3 separate regions of the Homo sapiens genome follow, and all the other regions are linked to region 1. Evidence: fine-mapped expression QTL. Tissue or cell type: whole blood. Region 1 holds a variant in brackets; each other region holds the start of a gene. All regions are shown on one strand. Distances are between the middles of the regions.

Region 1 (7,680 bases):
TTACAGGCGTGAGCCACCGCGGCCGGCCGTTTTTTAAAGCCACTGTTAGGTGTGGGTCAGAGAAACCTTAGGATGCCTTCAAGATTGTGCTGGAGCTGTAAAGAGTGCTAAGCCAAATTACTTTCCTATTGGAGCTATACTATGCGAGTAAATAAAAAATCATTTGCTGGCCAGGCGCAGTGGCTCACACCTATAATCCCAGCACCTTGGAAGGCCAAGGCAGTGTCTCACGTGTCCGTGTGAAGAGGCCACCAAACAGGCTTTGTGTGAGCAACAAGGCTGTTTATTTCACCTGGGTGCAGGCGGGCTGAGTGGGAAAAAGGAGTCAGCAAAGGGTGGTGGGATTATCATTGGTTCTTATAGGTTTTGGGAGAGGCGGTGGAGTTAGGAGCAATGTGTTGGGGGCAGGGGTGGATCTCACAAAGTACATTCTTGAGAGTGGGGAGAATTACAAAGAACCTTCTTAAGGGTGGGGGAGATTACAAAGTACATTGATCAGTTAGGGTGGGGCCGCAACAAATCACAATGGTGGAATGTCATCAGTTAAGGCTATTTTCACTTTTTTTGTGGATCTTCAGTTGCTTCAGGCCATCTGGATGTATACGAGCAGGTCATAGGGGTTACAATGGCTTAGCTTGGGCTCAGAGGCCTGACAGGAAGGAGGACCACTTGAGCCCAGGAGTTTGAGACCAGCCTGGGCAACATAGCGAGACCCTGTCTCTACAAAAAATGCAAAAATTAGCCAGGCCTGGTGGTGCCCACCTGTAGTCCCAGCTACTCAGGAGGCTGACGTGGGAGGATCACCAGAGCCTGGGAGGTCAAGGCTGCAGTGAGATATGATCACACCACTGTACTCCAGCCTGTGCAACAGGGTGAAACTGTCTCAAAAAAAAAAAAAAAAATGGCGGCCGGGTGCAGTGGCTCACGCCTGTAATCTCAGCACTTTGGGAGGCCAAGGTGAGGGGAATCACCTGAGGTCGGGAGTTCAAGACCAGCCTGACCAACATGGAGAAACCCTGTCTCTACTAAAAATACAAAATTAGCCGGGCGTGGCAGTGCATGCCTGTAATCCCAGCTACTCGGGAGGCCGAGGCAGGAGAATCGCTTGAACCCAAGAGGCGGAGGTTGAGATGAGCAGAGATTGCACCACTGCACTCCAGCCTGGGCAAGAAGAGCGAAACTCCATCTCAAAAAAAAAAATAGCTTGCTAAAAAGATAAAAACATACATACACACATACTAACTGAGTTGAGGGAGAGAGAGTATATAAGTCACAGAAGCTAAGGGATCGCCCCACCAAACCCATATAAGGTCTAGCCCCTCTGGAATTTATTCTGGCATCTAGTGTGAGCGAAGGGGCTAACACAAATTTTTTCCCAAAATAATTAACACAGGATTTCTCAGCCTCAACCCTGTTGACATTGGGCCTGCATCATTCTCTGGGGTGGGGCCGTCCTGTGCACTGAAGGGCTTTCAGCAGCATCTCTGGCCTCCACCCACTAGATGCCAGTAGTGCACACATAGTCTCACACACACATCCCCGCCCCCATCTGGGTACGACAACCAAAAATGTCTTCAGATATTGCCAAGTGTTCCCTGGGAAGGCAATATCACCGCTCCCCCGCCCCCCCGACACACACACACACACACACACACACACACACACACTCTCACACACACGCTGTTGAGAGCCACTGGTCAAATTTAGTGGTCATTGGGCAGGGCACGATGGCTCACATGTGTAAACCCAGCACTTTGGGAGGCTGAGGTGGGAGGATTGCTTGAGCTCAGGCGTTGGAGACCAGCCTGGGCAACATAGCAAGACCCCCATCTCCACAAAAAAATACAAAAATTACCCAGGCATATTGGTGCATGCCTGTAGTCCCAGCTACTCGGGAGGCTGAGGTGGGAGAATCACTTGAGCCCAGGAGTTCGAGGCTGCAGTGAGCCATGGCCATGCCACTGCACCCCAGCCTGGATGACAGGGCAAGAAATTAAAAAAAAAGAATTTGCTGGGCGCGGTGGCTCGCGCCTGTAATCCCAGCACTTTGGGAGGCCAAGGTGGGCAGGTCACGAGGTCAGGAGTTCGAGACCAGCCTGGCTAACATGGTGAAAGCCCGTCTCTACTAAAAATACAAAAATTAGCTGGTCATGGTGGTACGTACCTGTAATCTCAGCTACTGGGGCGGCTGAGCCAGGAGAATGGCTTGAACCCAGGAGGCAGAGGTTGCAGTGAGCCGAGATGGCACCACTGCACTCCAGCCTGGGTGACAGAGCAAGACTCTGTCAAAAAAAAAAAAAAAAAAAAAAAATTAGTGGCCATGGCAAATGTGAGGTCCCAACCACATGGCCAAGATGGCTTACCCCACCTCCCACCAGCAATACACCAAAGTCCTTGAGTGGGAAAGTCAAGGATGGGAGGCGAGGAGGAGACTTCCTGGGAGGGCGGGACTGGAGGCTGTCCAAGGAAGCAGCCCCAGGAGGCTTGACCTTCACATGAGGGGCAGCACAGGAAGTCCAGTCCAGCCTCTGATAATACTTAGACTCGAGAAAGATACAATTTATTGTTGACTCTGCAGGAGGGGAGACTATCGCCACCTTGTTAACTGGGTCATCGCATAATCAGACCCTGGAGGGTGGGCCTTCCTCACCACCCCAACTTGCAAATGTGAAATTCAGACACAGAGAGGAGCACCAGGGCAAGGTCATACACCTAATGCTACAGGAAATGCAGAGGCAAGGGAGATGGTGGGTAATAAATTATAATACTGAGCTGGGCGCAGTGGCTCATGCCTGGAATCCCAGCACTTTGGGAGGCTGAGGCAGGAGGATCTCTTGAGCTCAGGAGTTGGAGAGCAGCCTGGACAACATAGCGAGACCCCATCTCTACAAAAAATCTTGAAAATTAGCCAGGCGTGATGGCATGCACCTGCAGTCCCAGCTACTTGGGAGGCTGAGGTGAGAGGATTGCTTGAGCCCAGGACATTGAGGCTGCAGTGAGCTATGAGCATGCCACTGCACTACAGCCTGAGGGACAGAGCAAGACCCTGTCCGAAAATATATATATATAGGCCGGGCGCGTTGGCTCACGCCTGTAATCCCAGCACTTTGGGAGGCAGAGGTGGGCAGATGGCCTGAGGTCAGGAGTCTGAGACCAGCCTGAACAACATGGAGAAACTTTGTCTCTACTAAAAATACAAAAAAATTAGCCGGGCGTGGTGGCACATGCCTGTAATCCCAGCTACTCGGGAGGCTGAGGCAGGAGAATCGCTTGGACCTGGGAGGCTGAGGTTGTAGTGAGCCGAGATTGGGCCATTGCACTCCAGCCTGGGCGCCAAGAGCGAAACTCTGTCTCAAAAAAAAAAAAAAAAGGGTATAGATATAGATAAAGATAAATTACAATACTGGAGAGGAGGGGTGTTATTTTGGGAAAGCGAGGCAGCCCTGGGGACTCACTGTCCCCCTCCCAATATGAACCCAGCTGTCTTACTCCTCCACTCTCCTCCTTAGGCCAGGCTGGGGGTGACCCCACCTGGGACGAGCTCAATGCCCAGTAGAGGTGTACCAGGGGAGCCCACCAGCATCTGCACCCAATCATGGGAGGAAAATCGTGGTTTTACTATGCAGCTTCAGGACAAGCCCTCCAGGAACCTACCGCCCCCCACCCGCAAACCAGATCGCCGCTCCGGAGCCCCCAGCCCACTGGGAGGGCTCGCGGTTACTGCAAGGATTCTGGCGAATGAGGTCTAAATAGAATGAGAAGGGGGGCTGCGGACCGAGAAACTGAGGCAAGGCCTGGGGCGGGAGGGTGGAGGCTAAGGGGGAGGGGCAGGACTTCTCAGATGCCTGTTTACCAGGCGCTCCCCTCCCTTCCT[C/T]CGCCCAATTTCTGCGGGTGGCCAAGCCTGGCTGGGGGCTGGGACGGGGGAGACTGCACTGGTGGCTCCCTAAGGGGCCTCACCCCCAAGGCAGGGGTCGGAGCACGTGGCGTCCCGGACTTCTCTGGGAGGCCCCCTGGGGAGGGAGGTCCCTGCACCACCTCCCCCCACCCCAGCCCCCTCCATCATCCCGGGGCGGGACCAAGGGGCGGAGCGGGAGGGTGACCGGCCGTGACGCGTGCCCCGCCCGCTCATATAGCGGCTCCCGGGGGCGCAGGGACCGTGCTCCGCCGTCTCCGCCGCATCTTCCACCCTCGCCGCCGCCGCAGCTCCCCGCGCTCGTGCCACCGCCGCCGCGTCCACCCTCAGCGCCACCGCCATGCGGGAGATCGTGCACCTGCAGGCCGGCCAGTGCGGCAACCAGATCGGGGCCAAGGTGCTCGGGGAACGGGGCCCGGGGAGGCAGTGGCGGCCCCGGGGAGCACCGCGGGGTCGGTCCCCGGAGCACCCCGCAACCTGGGAGTCTTTGGAAAGGAATGAGGTCCCCAGGAGGCCAGCGCGCCCCAGGGGCCTTGGGGGAAGGGTCGCGGGGTGGGGGTGGCAGGGCCAGACTGGGAACAAAGAGGCTGCGGAGAGTGGGAGCCAGCCTTCTGTCCGCCTGTCACAGCTGGGCCCACAGCTGGGCCACTGTCCCCTCCTCACGCACAAAGAGCCCCGGTGCCTCCCCCGGGCTGCAGCCTGGGTGCGCTGGCACCAGCCGGCCCCGCTGGGTGCTGACTCGGCTGCACCCCGCCCCCACCGCTCCTTCTTGCTGCCTCATCCTCGCCCCGACACCATGCCTCTAGGTCCCCCGTTCACCTTGCTGGGGGAGAGGTGGCAGCTAGGGAGCTAGTTGGGGGCTGGGGGCAGTCCTCGGCTTGGCCACCGGCTTCCCCTCTCTCAACTCTTCCGACCACCTCTCTCTCTAGTTTTGGGAGGTTATCAGTGACGAACATGGCATCGACCCCACAGGCACATACCATGGGGACAGTGACCTGCAACTGGAGAGGATCAACGTGTACTACAACGAGGCCACAGGTAGGGCGAAGGAGGCACCTTCCAGGTGGGAAGGGGCAGCTGGGAGGGAACAGGATGCTACCGGGCGCCTGTGGTTCCTGGCACGCATCGAACTGCCCTCCATCTGTTTCCCTGCAGGAGGAAATTATGTCCCCAGAGCGGTGCTGGTGGACCTGGAACCCGGCACCATGGACTCTGTCCGTTCTGGCCCCTTCGGTCAGATCTTTCGGCCGGACAACTTCGTGTTTGGTGAGTCCCCCAGCAGGGAGCCAGAGGCTGGAAAACCTCCTTATTCCTGCTAACACCACAGAGTCAACAGCCACCACCGGGGCCCACAGACCAGAGATGGGGTGGACAGGGCACCAGGCACCAGCCCTGCATCCAGGGCTGTGATGAGGGGATGCTCAGGCCACTGTGAGAGCCCTGAGGAGGGCGGATACAGAGAAGGATTCAGGGAAGTCTTCCTGGAGGAGGTGGCATTTTAATTCAACGGTCTGAACCGGAACCAGACTGCCTGGGTGCACATCCCAATTCTGCCACTTCATGCATTCAACAAACAGTGAGCACTCACTGCATACCAGGCCCTGTTCTAGAAGCTGGAGATCCAGGTAAGAATCAAACAGCCGGAGCTCCCTCTCTGCCCCAGTGCAGCTCCCATTCTGGTAGAAGGTGATAGGCCACAAAGGAGATAAATAAGTAAAGCTCTGCCAGGGGTTGATTCAGATGGATAACTTAGGATGGGCTCCTCAGCCTTTCTGGGCCTCAAAAATCCTCTTTTTTTTTTTTTTTTCAGACAGGGTCTGTCTGTCCTGCTGTCACCCAGGCTAGAGTGCAGTGGCATGATCACGGCTCACTGTCACCTCCACCTCTGGGCACACGTGATCCTCTTGCCTCAGTCTCCCAAGTAGCTGGACCTACAGGCATGCACCACCACACCCAGCTAATTTTTTAGTTTTCTTTGTAGAGAGGTGGGTCTCTCTATGTTGCCCATGCTGGTCTCAAACTCCGGGACTCAAACGATCCACCCAACTCAGCTCCCAAAGTGCTGGATTACAAGCATGAGCCACCTTGCCCGGCCTCCTCGTCTTTAAAACAGGGATTTCACTGGGCATGGTGGTTCATGCCTATAAACCCAGGACTTTGGGAGGCTGAGTCAGGAAGAGAGCTTGAGGTCAGGAGTTCGAGACCAGCCTGGGCACCATGGTGAGACCCTGTCTCTACAAAAAGAAAAAAATTTTAATTAGCTGAGTGAGGTGGTGTGCACCTGTAGTCACAGCTACTCGTGAGGCTAAGGTAGGAGAATCACTTGAGCCTGGGAGGTTGAGGCTGCCATGAGCTATGATGGTGCCACTGCACTCCAGCCTGAGCGATGGTGTGAGACCCCATCTCTAAAAAAGATCAAATAAAACAGGGATTCTAAAATGCTATTAGAATTGTGAGGCTCAGGGTGGGCACGGTGGCTCACACCTGTAATCCCAGCACTTTGGGAGGCCGAGGCGGGTGGATCACCTGAGGTCGGGAGTTTGAGACCAGCCTGACTAACATGGAGAAACCCCATCTCTACTAAAAATAAAAAATTAGCCAGGCATGGTGGCACATGCCTGTAATCCCAGCTACTCGGGAGGCTGAGGCAAGAGAATTGCTTGAACGGCAGAGGTTGTGGTGAGCCAAGATCATGACACTGCACCCCAGCGTGGGCAACAAGAGTGAAACTTCGTCTCCAAAAAAAAAAAAAAATTGTGAAGCTTAAAGTCATGAATATGTGTAGAGTTTAGAACAATGCCTGACACAGAGAAAGAGGTAAATAAGCATTTGTCGTTGTTTTCATTACTATCTGCAGTCTAGAATGTGAGTAGGATTTGGACTGGCCAAAGGGCATGGAAGGGAGGAAAGATGTTTAAGACGGAGGCAACAGCATATGTGAAGATAGTGGGGTGTCCACACCCTGGGACAATCCTTCCGGGAAAGCTTTCCTGGCTCCAGCTGGCTGCATGTCCCCACCCTGGCTCCACCCGCCTCCAATACTCCCAGCATGTAAGACGTGCTAAATGCAGGACCTGTCCTGCCTCTCTGAATCTTTTCCGCAACTCGCCTCTTACTTCCATTTTACAGGTGAGAAAACAGAGGCACAGAGACGTTAGGTCACTTGCAGAAAGTCACACTGCAAGCCACTGGGGCTGTCAGGAGCCAGAGGAGAGGGTCTGACTACTAGGTCCACGCTTTTTTTTTTTTTTGAGACGGAGTCTCCGTTGCCCAGGCTGGAGTGCAGTGACGCAACCTCCACCTCCCAGATTCAAGCGATTCTCCTGCCTCACGAGTAGCTGGGACTACAGGCATGCATCACCACACCTAGCTAATTTTTTGTATTTTTAATAGTGACGGGGTTTCGCCATGTTGGCCAGGCTGGTCTCCTATTCCTGACCTCTCAGGTGATCTGCCTGCCTCTGCTTCCCAAAGTGCTGGGATTACAGGCATGAGCAACCGCGCCTGGTCTGAGCCCACACTTTTAATGCTCCTCCCACCCCCTGGCCACCCAGAGGCCATAGAATCTCTTGGCCCAACTGTAAGCCCTCTGGTCCTCCTGAAATCACTCACACCATTTGGCCAATCTCATTTCATCTTGATTTCACCCAGCCATTTCCCAAGGACCTATGATGGGCCACGGCCACAAAACTGCATCATTATGTTTTGAAATCTTCCAACAGATCAGAAAGGGGAAGTCACTTGTCCAAGGTCACACAGTTTGTCTT
Region 2 (5,979 bases), 20 kb after region 1:
CACGATCTTGGCTCACTACAACTCCCAGGTTCAAGCGATTCTCCTGCCTCAGCCTCCCAAGTAGCTAGCTACATAGCCACGCATGGTGGTACAGATCTGTAGTCCCAGCTACTTGGGAAGCTGAGTCAGGAGAATCACTTGAACCTGGGAGGCAGAGGTTGCAGATATTTTGTCATAGCAGCCTTAATTTTTTTTTTTTTTAACATAGAGTCTTGCTCTGTCACTCGCTGGAATGCAGTGGTGCAATCAAAGTTCACTGTAGGCTTGAACTCCTGGGCTCAAGTGATCCTCCCGCCTTAGCCTCCCAAGTAGCCGGGACTACAGGCGCTATCACCACACCTAGCTCAAACCTCTTTTTATTTATTTATTTATTTATTTTTATTTTTTTATTTTTTACTTTCCCGAGACAGAGTCTCTCTCTGCTGCCCATGCTGCAGTGCAGTGGTGCAATCTTCACTCACTGCAACCTCTGCCTCCTGGGTTCAAACAATCCTCCCACTCAGCCTCCCAAGTAGCTGGGACTACAGGTGCACACCACCATGCCCAGCTAATTTCTGTATTTTTTGTAGAGACGGGGTTTCACCATGCTGCCCAGGCTGGTCTCAAACTTCTGCCTCAAGCAATCCACCCCCCTCAGCCTCCCAGAGTGCTAGGATTACAGGTGTGAACCACTGCACCCTGCCAGAGCCACCGCACTGGGCCTCAAGCCTCTTTTATAAAGGCATTAATCCCACTGTTGAGGGTGGATACCTCTTGACCTCATCACCTCCCAGAGGCCTCACCTATTTTTTTTTTTTTTTTTTGAGACGGAGTTTCACTCTTGTTGCCCAGGCTGGAGTGCAATGGCGCAATCTCGGCTCCTCTTACTACTGCCTTGGGGCTTTAGGTTTCAACATACGAATTTTGGAGGGACACATATTCGGACAATAGCACATGTCCATCAGACTGTGTGAGGATGTGGCTGACGGGATTCTGACTCTGTATGTGTCCAGTGACTGTGGGTACGAGGTGTCTTCTTCTTCTTCTTCTTTTTTTTTTTTTTGATGGAGTTTTGCTCTTGATGCCCAGGCTGGAGTGCAATGGCACGATCTTGGCTCACCACAGCCTCCGCCTCCCATGTTCAAGCAATTCTCCTGCCTCAGCCCCCTGAGTAGCTAGGATTACAAGTATGTGTCACCACCACACCCGGCTAATTTTGTATCTTTAGTAGAGACGGGGTTTCTCCAAGTTGCCCATGCTGGTCTCAAACTCCCGACCTCAGGTGACCCGCCCACCTCGGCCTCCCAAAGTGCTGGGATTACAGGTGTGAGCCACCGCACCCGGCCACGAGGTGTTTTCACACCACACAGTGGTCTGAGTCTGTTGGCAGGATTTCATGTGTAGGTGTGACCCTGACTATATCATGTTCTGTTTTTGTGCCTGCAGATATGTTCACATATCCTGTCTCAACATGACTACGTCTGTCCACCTGTGTGCCTGTGTCTTTTTTGTTGTTTTTGTTTGTTCCTGTGTTTGTTTGGAGATAGGGTCTTACACCGTTGCCCAGGCTGGAGTGCAATGGCACGATCACAGCTCACTACAACCCCCACCACCTGGGCTCAAGGGATCCTCCCGCCTCAGCCTACAGAATAGCTGGGACTACTGCACCTGGCTAAAGTTTTAATTTTTGTAAAGATGGGGTCTTGTTATATTGCTCAGGCTGATCTTTAACTCCTGGCCTCAAACAATCCTACCTCAGCCTCCCAAGGTGCTGGGATTACTGAGCCACTGCCTCCAGCCCCTGTGTCTTTCATAGTCTGCAGCACGGCTTGAGTGTGTCGGGCTGTCATGAGTATCTGGCTGTCATGTGAGTCCAGCTGTGTCTCTCTCTGCATGTGGCCGGGTCTTGGCTATAACTATATCTGGTTATTACTTGAGCTATGTCTGTGCTGTGTTTCCATCTATCTGGGTCTATTTCTCTGTTATTCTGTTTGTATCAATGGCTGTGGTCTCTGTGTAACTGTTTATTGTGTCTCTGTCTGTCTCTGCATTTGTTTGTTTGTTTGTTTGCTTTGTTTTTGTTTTTGTTTTTGAGATGGAGTCTCACTCTTTCACCCAGGCTGGAGTGCAGTGGCACGATCTCGGCTCACTGCAACCTCTGCCTCCCGGATTCAAGTGATTCTCCTGCTTCAGCCTCCCAAGCAGCTGGGATTACAGGCACATGCCACCATGCCCAGCTAATTTTTTGTTTGTTTGTTTGTTTTTGATTTTTTGAGACAGAGTCCTGCTCTGTCGCCCAGGCTAGAGTACAGCGGCGCGATATCGGCTCACTGCAAACTCCGCCTCCCAGGTTCAAATAATTCTGCCTCAGCCTCCTGAGTAACTGGGATTACAGATGCCCACCACCGTGCCTGGCTAATCTTTGTATTTTTAGTAGAGACTGGGTTTCACCATCTTGGCCAGGCTGGTCTCGAACTCCTGACCTCGTGATCCACCTGCCTCAGCCTCCCAAAGTGCTGGGATTACAGATGTGAGCCACCGCACCTGGCCTGTATTTTTTTTTAATTAGAGACAGGGTTTCACCATGTTGGCCAGGCTGGTTGCAAACTCCTGACCTCAAGTGATCCGCTTACCTTGTCTTTCTGCGCACAATGGGTGTGTAACTGTGACTAAGTTGTTTTTTTTTTTTTTTGAGACAGGATCTCACTTTGTTGCTCAGGCTGGAGTACAGTAGTGCAATCTTGGTTCACTATGGCCTCAAACTCCCCAGGCTCAGGCGATCCTCCTGACTCAGCCTCCTGGGTAAGCTGGGACTATAGGTGCGTGCCACCACCGCCAGCTATAATTTTTGTAGCTTTTATAGACACAGGGTTTCGCCATGTTTCCCAGGCTGGTCTCGAACTCCTGGGCTCAAGCGGTCCTCCCACCTTGGCCTCTCAAAGTGCTGGGATTATAGGCGTGAGCCACTGTGCCCGGCCTGGGACTATGATCCAGCTGTAGGACTCCCTATCTCTCCATGTCTGTCGTCTCTGGCTCTTCTGCACTCGGTTTGTCTGTGCTGATGACTTCCTGAGCGTGTAACTGTCTGTGTCTGTGTCTGTCTGTCCGTCCCTGTGCCTGTACTTCGTGCTCTTTGTCCCCATCCCTGGCCCCCCCACCGTCCACTTTACAGGTGGCTCCCTCTGGTGGTCCACCAGTGACCGTCCAGGCCAAATGGACCAAGGGAAAGAGACGGGGAGGCATTTCATTAATAGACAGACTGTGAATCTTGGCTGCTGCGGAGCGGGGAAGGAGAGATGAGGGCCCAGGCACGATGGGGGGAACCAGACACAGTCCAGCCTGGCGGGGACGGAGCTGGGGGTCTGCCTTCCCAGGCTGACCACTTATTGCCCACCCATCCCCAACATAATTAGCAGGCAGGATGCCTGGGTTTCTCACGGGGGTGGGGGCAGGGCCTCTGTCCGGGGACGTCACCCGTTAAACTTCCTCTCTCAGCCACACAGGAAGCTGAGCCGGCTTGGGGCCCAGCATACACAGGCCCCCAGGACCCCTGGGGAGAGGGCCCCGCTGGGCTGGCCCTGCAGGGACCATGGAATCCAGAGCTGAGTAAGAGCCACCCCATCCCTCATTCTCTGGTACAAGATTCCCGGGCCAGGCCTGAGCCGGGGCAGAGGGGAGCTGGGGCTGGAGCAGGCCCGGGAGGTGCAGTGACCTGCCAGGGCAGGTGGCTGGAATCAGATACTCCATGGGCCTCCGCTATGACCTTCACTCTGGGACAGGCCACTCTCGGTCCCCTCCTCTCTCTCTCTCTCTCTCTCTCTATCCAGCTCCTGTGATTATGTCTATAGCTCTGTGAATGCATGTACCCCTCTGAGCTTTGTCCTTGGTATGTCTGAGTGATGGCTTCAGGGGGTCCACAGGGCGGATGATCAGGGCAGAGGGGAGGCTGGGTGTTGGTATGAGTGGGTGATCGTGTGTGACTTGTGTCGGCGTGAGGGTGAAGTGCTGGGGTACCCATGGTGGGGACTGTGTGTGCAACTGGGCGGGACAGTGTGTGTGCAGCTGATCTCCCTCTAGATCTCCCTGTCTCTCTCCTTGAGCCCAAGGCTGCCTCTTCTGCTTGATATGGGGGCAGAGGAGGAAAGCAGAGATTGCAGGGCTTACAGTAAGTACCTAGGTATCCTGCCCTCCTTTCTCTGATGAGACATGTGGGACCAGCCACGAGGGTTCTATGGGGTCTCACACACAGAGACACACAGCCAGCCCACAAGGATCCCACGCGGTTACCCAGTGACACTCACAGCTGTACAGGAAAATATAGATGTCATTCACTTGCTCGGGCACACACACTCACATCTATACAAGAAAATATAGATGGCATGGCTAGATGCAGTGACTCAAGCCTGTAATCCCAGCAATTTGGGAGGCTGAGGCGGGCAGATCACCTGAGGTCAGGAGTTTGAGAACAGCCTGGCCAGTATGTGAAACCCTGTCTCTACTAAAAATATGAAAATTAGCTGGGCGTGGTGGCGGGCACCTGTAATCCCAGCTACAGGGAGGCTGAGGCAGGAGAATCGCTTGAACCTGTGGGGTGGAGGTTGCAGTGAGCCAAGATCGTGCCACTGTACTCCAGCCTGGGTGACAAAGCAAAACTCCATCTCAAAAAAATAGATAGATAGATAGATAGATAGATAGATAGATAGATAGATAGATAGATAGATAGGTGGGTGGGTGGATGGATAGGTGGGTGGGTGGGTGGATGGATGGATGGATGGATAGACAGAGACAGACAGACAGACAGATAGATGGATATATATATAGAGAGAGAGAGATGTAATTCACTTAGCTTGGGACTGCACGGGCTGTCCTTCATATCTGTGCAGTCTCATGCCACAGATATAGGAGACAGTCTCATCTTTTCAGGCAGACAGCAGACAGGATCACACACACACTGCCTGCTCACAAAAGCCATGCACTCAGCCACACACAATCATACACAGCCACACACACACAGTCACACTTTCTCACTCCATCCTGTACTTGTGTGTTCAATTAACACTGCTGCACACACAGCCTCACACAACCACACACTCACAGCCACAAACCCCCAGAGTCATGCACATGCCGACGCACCTTGTGGCACATGCACACACAACCACACTTGTGTGCAAAGTGGCAGACACAACCACACATGCATAGAAGCAAGTCTCTGGACCCCTTCTGCATCCCACAGAGGGGGCTCCCCTGCTGTGTTTGATTGGTTCTTCGAAGCGGCCTGCCCTGCCTCCCTGCAGGAGGGTGAGTTGGGAGCCTGGGAGTGAGGGAGTGGGAGGGGAGGGTGGGCCTGGGTCGCTGAACTTAGAGGCGTGCTCTCTTCTACAGATCCCCCCATCCTGCGGCAGTTCCCTCCAGACTTCAGGGACCAGGTATTCAGGCTGGCTCCTTGCTCCCCCAGGGCGAGGGCCAGTCTCCCAGGGGGAGGGGACTTGGTTTCTTGGACCTGGAGCCCAGGGAGGTGGTGCCCGACCTCAGTGGCCAAGCAGTCTGCGCTTTTCTTCACCTCCAGGAAGCTATGCAGATGGTGCCTAAATTCTGCTTCCCTTTTGATGTGGAAAGGTACGGAAGGGCGGGGAGATCCAAGGACTCAGGGACTCAGATCTCTCAGGGGCCCCAAGGACTCAACACCTAGAGACTCAGACATCTGGAAACCCATACACTCGAGGACCCTGAGACTCAGAGACTCAGACACTCAGGGGCCCTGAGAACTAGGGACCTATATACATTAGCATCCAGGGACTCAGACACTCAGGGACCCAGAGATCTAGGGACTCAGGAACCCAGGGACCCAGGGACCCAGGGACTCAGAGACTCAAGGACTCAGGGACACAAGGATTCAGGGACTTCGGAACCCAGAGACTCAGAAACTCAGGGACCAGGGACTCAGGGACTCAGGGACTCAGGGACTGAGGAACCCAGGGACTTAGGGATTCAAGGACCCAG
Region 3 (5,979 bases), 42 kb after region 1:
TCAGGAGACAGAGATTGCAGTGAGCCGAGATTGCACCATTGCACTCCACCCTGGGTGACAAGAGTGAAACTCCATCTCATAAAAAAAAAAAAAAATCTGCATTGAATCACAGCTATACGAAATATAGCCAAGGCTGGGCATGGTGGCCCACGCCTGTAATCCTAGCACTTTGGGAGGCCGAGGCAGGTGGATCACGAGGTCACGAGTTCGAGACCAGCCTAGCCAAGATGGTGAAATCCCCGTCTCTACTAAAAAATAATCAAAAATTAGCTAGCGTAGTGGTGGGCGCCTGTAATCCTAGCTACTTGGGAGGCTGAGGCAGGAGAATCGCTTGAACCCTGGAGGCGGAGGTTGCAGTGAGCCGAGATCACGCCACTGCACTCTAGCCTGGGTGACAGAGCAAGACTGTCAAAAAAAGAAAAGAAATATAACCAAATGGATACATACCACCAGGGTGGACAGTATCTCTATAGAACACGCCTGCATTATCATCACAAACAGCTAACTAAGGCACTCTGATGTGGAATAGACCTGTTTTAGGAACATATCTGCATGGCTCACCTATGAAATGTACGGCACTTGCATTGGGGGAATTCCTGGGTGTCAGTGTCTTGTAAATACCTGTATGAGACACACCTGCATTTACGTAAACCTGTATGGGACTCGGTTGTATGGAAACATACCCAGATGGGTGTATACTTAACTGAAACACACCTACGGGGCGGGAGACTGTAGAATGCATTCATGGGTGGAGGGAAACCTGCTCAGAAACATACCTGTGAGGTAAGAGAAAGCACCTTGTAGGAGGAACACCTGTATGGAATTGAGCTCAAGTGAGGGGAAGAACTTGGAACATCTGCACGGGGCACACTCACATTGACACACATCTGTGGGTAAAACCATCAGGGCAGGGGCTCACATACACTGAGGCCCACCTGTCAAGAATGTATCTGTGAGAAAACACCTATTTAGGGGCACTTACATGGAAAAAAACCTCTGTATCACTCCATGCTGTATGGCACCTGCAAGGAACAACTGTAAATGAAAACCTCTGCTGGGGAGCCTCTTAGAAGAGACTCATTTGTCTGGGGCACACCTGTTCCAGCACACCTGTCTAGGCAGAGGCTGGGCGTGAACTAAATATGCCCTCACGACTGTATCTTTGTTTTCTTTCCTTTTTAAAAAAAATAATAATAATTATTATTATTATTTGTAGAGTTGGGTGTCTTGCTATATTGCCCAGGCCGGTCTCAAACTCCTGACCCCAAGCGATCCTCCCATCTCGGCCTCTCAAATTGCTAGAATTAGAGGCCTAAGCCACCGAGACCGGCCAATGCTGTATCTTTGGATAAAGGATGATGATAATAACAAGACCCCCTCCTGAGGACCCTTGGGTGACAAGTGATGATTAAAGAATAATTAGGCCAGGCCGGGCGCGGTGACTCACGCCTGTAATCCCAGCACTTTGGGAGGCTGAAGCGGGAGGATAATCTGAGGTCAGGTGTTCGAGACCAGCCTGGTCCACAGGTGAAACCCCCCCCCCCCGTCTCTAATAAAAATACAAAACTCACGGCTGCGGTCGGGCATGGTGGCTCATGCCTGTAATCCCAGCACTTTGGGAGGCCGAGGCGGGCGGATCACGAGGTCAGGAGTTTGAGACCAGCCTAACCAACATGGTGAAACCCCGTCTCTACTAAAAATACAAAAATTAGCCGGGCGTGGTGGTGTGCGCCTGTAATCTCAGCTACTTGGGAGGCTGAGGCGGGAGCATTGCTTGAACCCGGGAGGCGGAGGTTGTGGTGAGCTGAGATCGTGCCATTGCACTCCAGCCTGGGCAATAAGAGCGAAACTCCATCTCAAAAAAAAAAAAAAAAAAAAAAAAAAAAAAAAAAAAAAAAAAAAAAAACTCACTGCTGCGTGCGATGGCTCACGCCTATAATCCCAGCACTTTGGGAGGCTGAGGCGGGCGGATCACGAGGTCAGGAGTTCGAGACCAGCCTGGCCAACATGGTGAAACCCCGTCTCCACTAAAAATACAAAAATTAGCTGGGTTTGGTGGCGGGCGCCTGTAATCCCAGCTACTCGGGAGGCTGAGGCAAAAGAATCGTTTGAATCCGGGAGGCGGAGGTTGCAGTGAGCCGAGATCGCGCCATTGCACTCCAGCCTGAGCAACAACAGCGAAACTCCGTTTCAAAAAAAAAAAAAAAAAAAAGATAATTAATTCTTTCTAGGGTATAGAGTGATGGTTAAGGATCCCAGATCTCTTTAAACCCTGTTTTGCCCCTTAGTGGTCATCAGGACTGGGGAGAATGACTTAACCTCCGCTTCCTTATCTGCAAAGTGCGAACGCCAGTACCACCTACCTTATAGGGTTTTGGCAAAGACGACTCGAGAGGTGAGTAAAAGCCCTGGCATGTGCAAAGCACTGAATCAAAGTGAGATTTGTTATCGAGTATTCGCTGTCAAGTGGTCTGGGCTCCCTTCCCCCTAATGGTGGATCGAGAAACTGCGCCCGAAACTAGCAGTAGGGACATTCCGCAGGTGCAGCGAGTGCGACAGGCTGGGGCCCTGCCTCCAGCGCTCGACCACTGGGATCCTCAACCCCGCGCCCGGGTCACTGAGCCACCCCCTCCCCACGCCGCTCAGCGTCTGATTGCGGCCGCGGCCCCTTTAAGATCTCCTGGCAGGCGGTGGGACTGCGGGCTGGAGGCAGTCGGGGGTCTGCGGGGAGGCCCCGCCTAGGTGGGAGAAGAGGCGGGGCGGGCGGGCTCAGCCCAGGAGGCGCTGACCAATAGGAAACCGACTTTGCAGCCGCGCCGCGCGTTGATTTTCTGTTTCCCAGTCAGAGTGGGAACCGAGAAAGGAAGCGCGCGGGCGGGAAGAAGGGACAGTGGGAGAGCATCGCTCCTGGATCTTCTGTTTCTGCGGCCGAGCGGGGAAGGTGTAAGGCGCGGGCGGGCAGAGAGCGAGCGAGATGGTGCACGGTTCTTGCGTGCGTCTGGGAAAAGCGAGAACTTGAGTTCCTGAAGATTAGTGGGTGTGGCGGGGAGGTCAAGTGGAAGGGGATTATGAAACCCAATCCCCGACAGCGCTCTACCTTGCCCCCTTGGGCAAAGGGGGAAAGGGTAAACTGAGGCACGCAGAGGCGGAACTCTGAAACCAGACCTGAGACCACTGAGCTCCCTAGCCCGTCTTCCCAGAAGGAACTCTGGTGTTCCTCGGCTGTGCAATACCAGACCATCCCAGACATTCCCTCCCCACGCCCCCAGCTCCGCCCTCGGTCCCCTCCCCCCAATGCAGGTCGGGGGAGGAGACGCAAGTTCTGGCGCGGGCGGCGACGGCTAGCCGTCACCACCTCCCGCAAGTGCCAGAGCCGAGCGGACTGCGCGGAGGCTGCGGAGCCGGCGGCCGCGGGAGCTGACCCTGCGGGGTCCCGGGGGGGGAGGGGGAGCCGCGAAGCCCCCACTGAGGCCGCCGCTGCCGGGCCTCCCCTCCCCCCCGGGCGGGCGCCATGCGGGGGAGCCCGGGCGACGCGGAGCGGCGGCAGCGCTGGGGTCGCCTGTTCGAGGAGCTGGACAGTAACAAGGATGGCCGCGTGGACGTGCACGAGTTGCGCCAGGGGCTGGCCAGGCTGGGCGGGGGCAACCCAGACCCCGGCGCCCAACAGGTACCCCCACCCCCAGGGACCTCCTCCCCTCCCGGCCCCGCCCGCTCCCGGTTACCCAAGCCCCTGAACTGGGCGGCCGGAGCCACCAGGGACTACCTGTGGCTGGACTCCAGAACCTGTGTCTCTGTCTCGTTCCCCCTACCCACTCGTGTTTGGCCTAACGGGATCGCTCAAGACAGGGACGCCGAGGCCCCAAGCCTGCAGTTCCGCGGCCAACACCCGATCCCCCTGCTGCGGGGCAGGGGGCGTCTGCCTGGGAAGAGATGGGGGCGCTTTCCTGCCCACTGCCCGGGACACACCCTCCTCCAGACTGCACAGCCCATGACGTGCCCTGCTCTCACCTCCAGGAGACACACCCTCCATCCTCTGGGCACCTACTGCCCTGGCCTGCAGCTGCCCCGATCCCTGTGTTTACATTCCCTGGCCTGCCCTTTCATGGGCCGTTCACGGGCCTGGCTCACTGTCCCGGGCTGCCCCAGCCAGGGACCCAATCCTGTCTGCGGTCACCCGCAGCTGGGAATGCACCTATAACAAGACTTTCCTCCCGCTGCCCCCACCTCCACTTTGCAGGTCCTTCCCACACCTGTAGCCCCAGATCGCTCTAAGAGAACCACAGCAACCCTGAGAGCAGTCCAACCTCCCACTTCCCAAATGGGAAAAACCAAGGCCTCAGCCACTCCGCTTGGTTCTCTCCTGCCCCACATCGCCCAGGGCTTCCTCCAAAGGGAACCCCTGGGTCCCCCATGTGGACAGGGTTTTTTAAGAGGCAGCTGGGTTCAACAGGAATGAGATACCTAAAAAAATAACAAAAACTAAAAACAAGAGACAGCTGGAAGGACAGGCTTTACAGATGAGAACTGAGGTTACCATTTCCTGGTTCTGTGACCTTGAACTGGTGACTTGACCTTGCAGAGCCTCAGTTTGCTCACCAGGAAAACTAGACCACTCACACCCACCGCACAGACCTGTGGTGGCTGTAGGGATCTGGCTGAGAAGTTAGCTGACTGAGGGAGAAGTGGGGTGACGTCTTCTATCCCCTTCCTCAAGGCGCTGGGGGCTCTGGGTTCCTAAGGCATAAGGTGACATGCGTCCCCTCCAGATCAGGAGCAGGTTCCTGGAGCCACCTCTATCCCCTTTCCCTCTGTCAGGGTATCTCCTCTGAGGGTGATGCTGACCCAGATGGCGGGCTCGACCTGGAGGAATTTTCCCGCTATCTGCAGGAGCGGGAACAGCGTCTGCTGCTCATGTTTCACAGTCTTGACCGGAACCAGGATGGTAAGGTCGGGCGACCTGCCTGCAGGCCCCAAGGGATAGGGCTGTGGGGGCCCTAGAGACATCAGTGGGGTTAGAACTGGCAGCGCTAGGAGGAGAGGGGGAGGGCCGCTTCTCCCCGATGACTCATAGGCTATTTCAGGAGCACTCCTCACCCCCTAGCTAGGTGGTTCGAGGCCCAGCCAGCCCATCCCACCTCCTTTCCCTACTGGGGCAGAACCCCGATAATTACCCTTAGATTTTTCTATGGGGCAAAGATACCCTATGCTGTTCCTGGGTCCCCTGTGGGACAGAGATCCCCTCATAGCAGCATCTGGGTTGTGGATATTGCCTCTCAATCCCCCATGGCATAGAGACCCCTACAATTACCCCTGGATTCCTTCATTCATTTACAGAACAGAGAAGCCCCCCCAGTATTTCCCAGTTCCACCTCTCTGACCCCAGTGAGTCAGGGGTCCCCCCACAGCCCTACTGCAAACCTCCTCCTAGGTTTCTGGAGCCCCTGATCTTGCTAGACCACCTCCATTCCAAGCTGTTCTGATCCTTGGTCCTGGGGTTCCCCAGGTGTCCTCACACGCACATCCTTCCCCACCTCCGGCCCCCTCCCCAGGTCACATTGATGTCTCTGAGATCCAACAGAGTTTCCGAGCTCTGGGCATTTCCATCTCGCTGGAGCAGGCTGAGAAAATTTTGCACAGGTGAGTCGCTGGGGGTCTGGAATCCAAAGTAACTCAGGACACAGTGACCCCTTGGCCATCTCTGTCTTCTGGGCTCCAGACCCAGTCCCAAGGAGGATACAGCTGAGAGGTTGGGGCTTTGAAGTCAGACAGATCTGGCCAGGCGCAGTGGCTCACATCTGTAACCCCAGCACTTTGGGAGGCTGAGGCAGGTGGATCACCTGAGGTCAGGAGTTGGGGACCAGCCTGGCCAACATGGTAAAACCCCATCTCTACTAAAAATACAAACATTGGCCAGGCGTGGTGGTGCATGCCTGTAATTCCAGCTACTTGGGGAGGCTGAGGCACGGGAATCCCTTAAAC

The links. PIP is the estimated chance that this variant, and not a neighbour inherited with it, causes the effect.
Region 2: it holds the start of DENND1C, and the variant in region 1 is fine-mapped to the expression of DENND1C in whole blood (TOPMed, PIP above 0.99).
Region 3: SLC25A23 starts here. The variant in region 1 is fine-mapped to the expression of SLC25A23 in whole blood (INTERVAL, PIP above 0.99).

Annotation. Positions count from the first base shown.
Region 1 is chr19:6,498,786-6,506,465 of GRCh38, reverse strand. TUBB4A (tubulin beta 4A class IVa) reads left to right here and starts at 4,157. Exons shown (of 4, transcript NM_006087.4): 1 at 4,157-4,310; 2 at 4,843-4,951; 3 at 5,069-5,179. The coding sequence starts at 4,254. RefSeq lists a cis regulatory region at 1,279-1,756, an enhancer at 1,634-1,773 and silencers at 3,901-4,170, 4,181-4,360, 4,531-4,640. The variant C/T (reference allele first, on the strand shown) is at 3,875.
Region 2 is chr19:6,479,285-6,485,263 of GRCh38, reverse strand. DENND1C (DENN domain containing 1C) reads left to right here and starts at 3,477. Exons shown (of 23, transcript NM_024898.4): 1 at 3,477-3,585; 2 at 5,213-5,277; 3 at 5,362-5,405; 4 at 5,546-5,595. The coding sequence starts at 3,569. RefSeq lists enhancers at 2,992-3,286, 4,883-5,382.
Region 3 is chr19:6,457,161-6,463,139 of GRCh38, reverse strand. It overlaps SLC25A23 (solute carrier family 25 member 23), which reads left to right and starts at 3,348. Exons shown (of 10, transcript NM_024103.3): 1 at 3,348-3,667; 2 at 4,816-4,942; 3 at 5,550-5,637. The coding sequence starts at 3,512. RefSeq lists silencers at 2,657-2,836, 3,347-3,486, 3,537-3,596.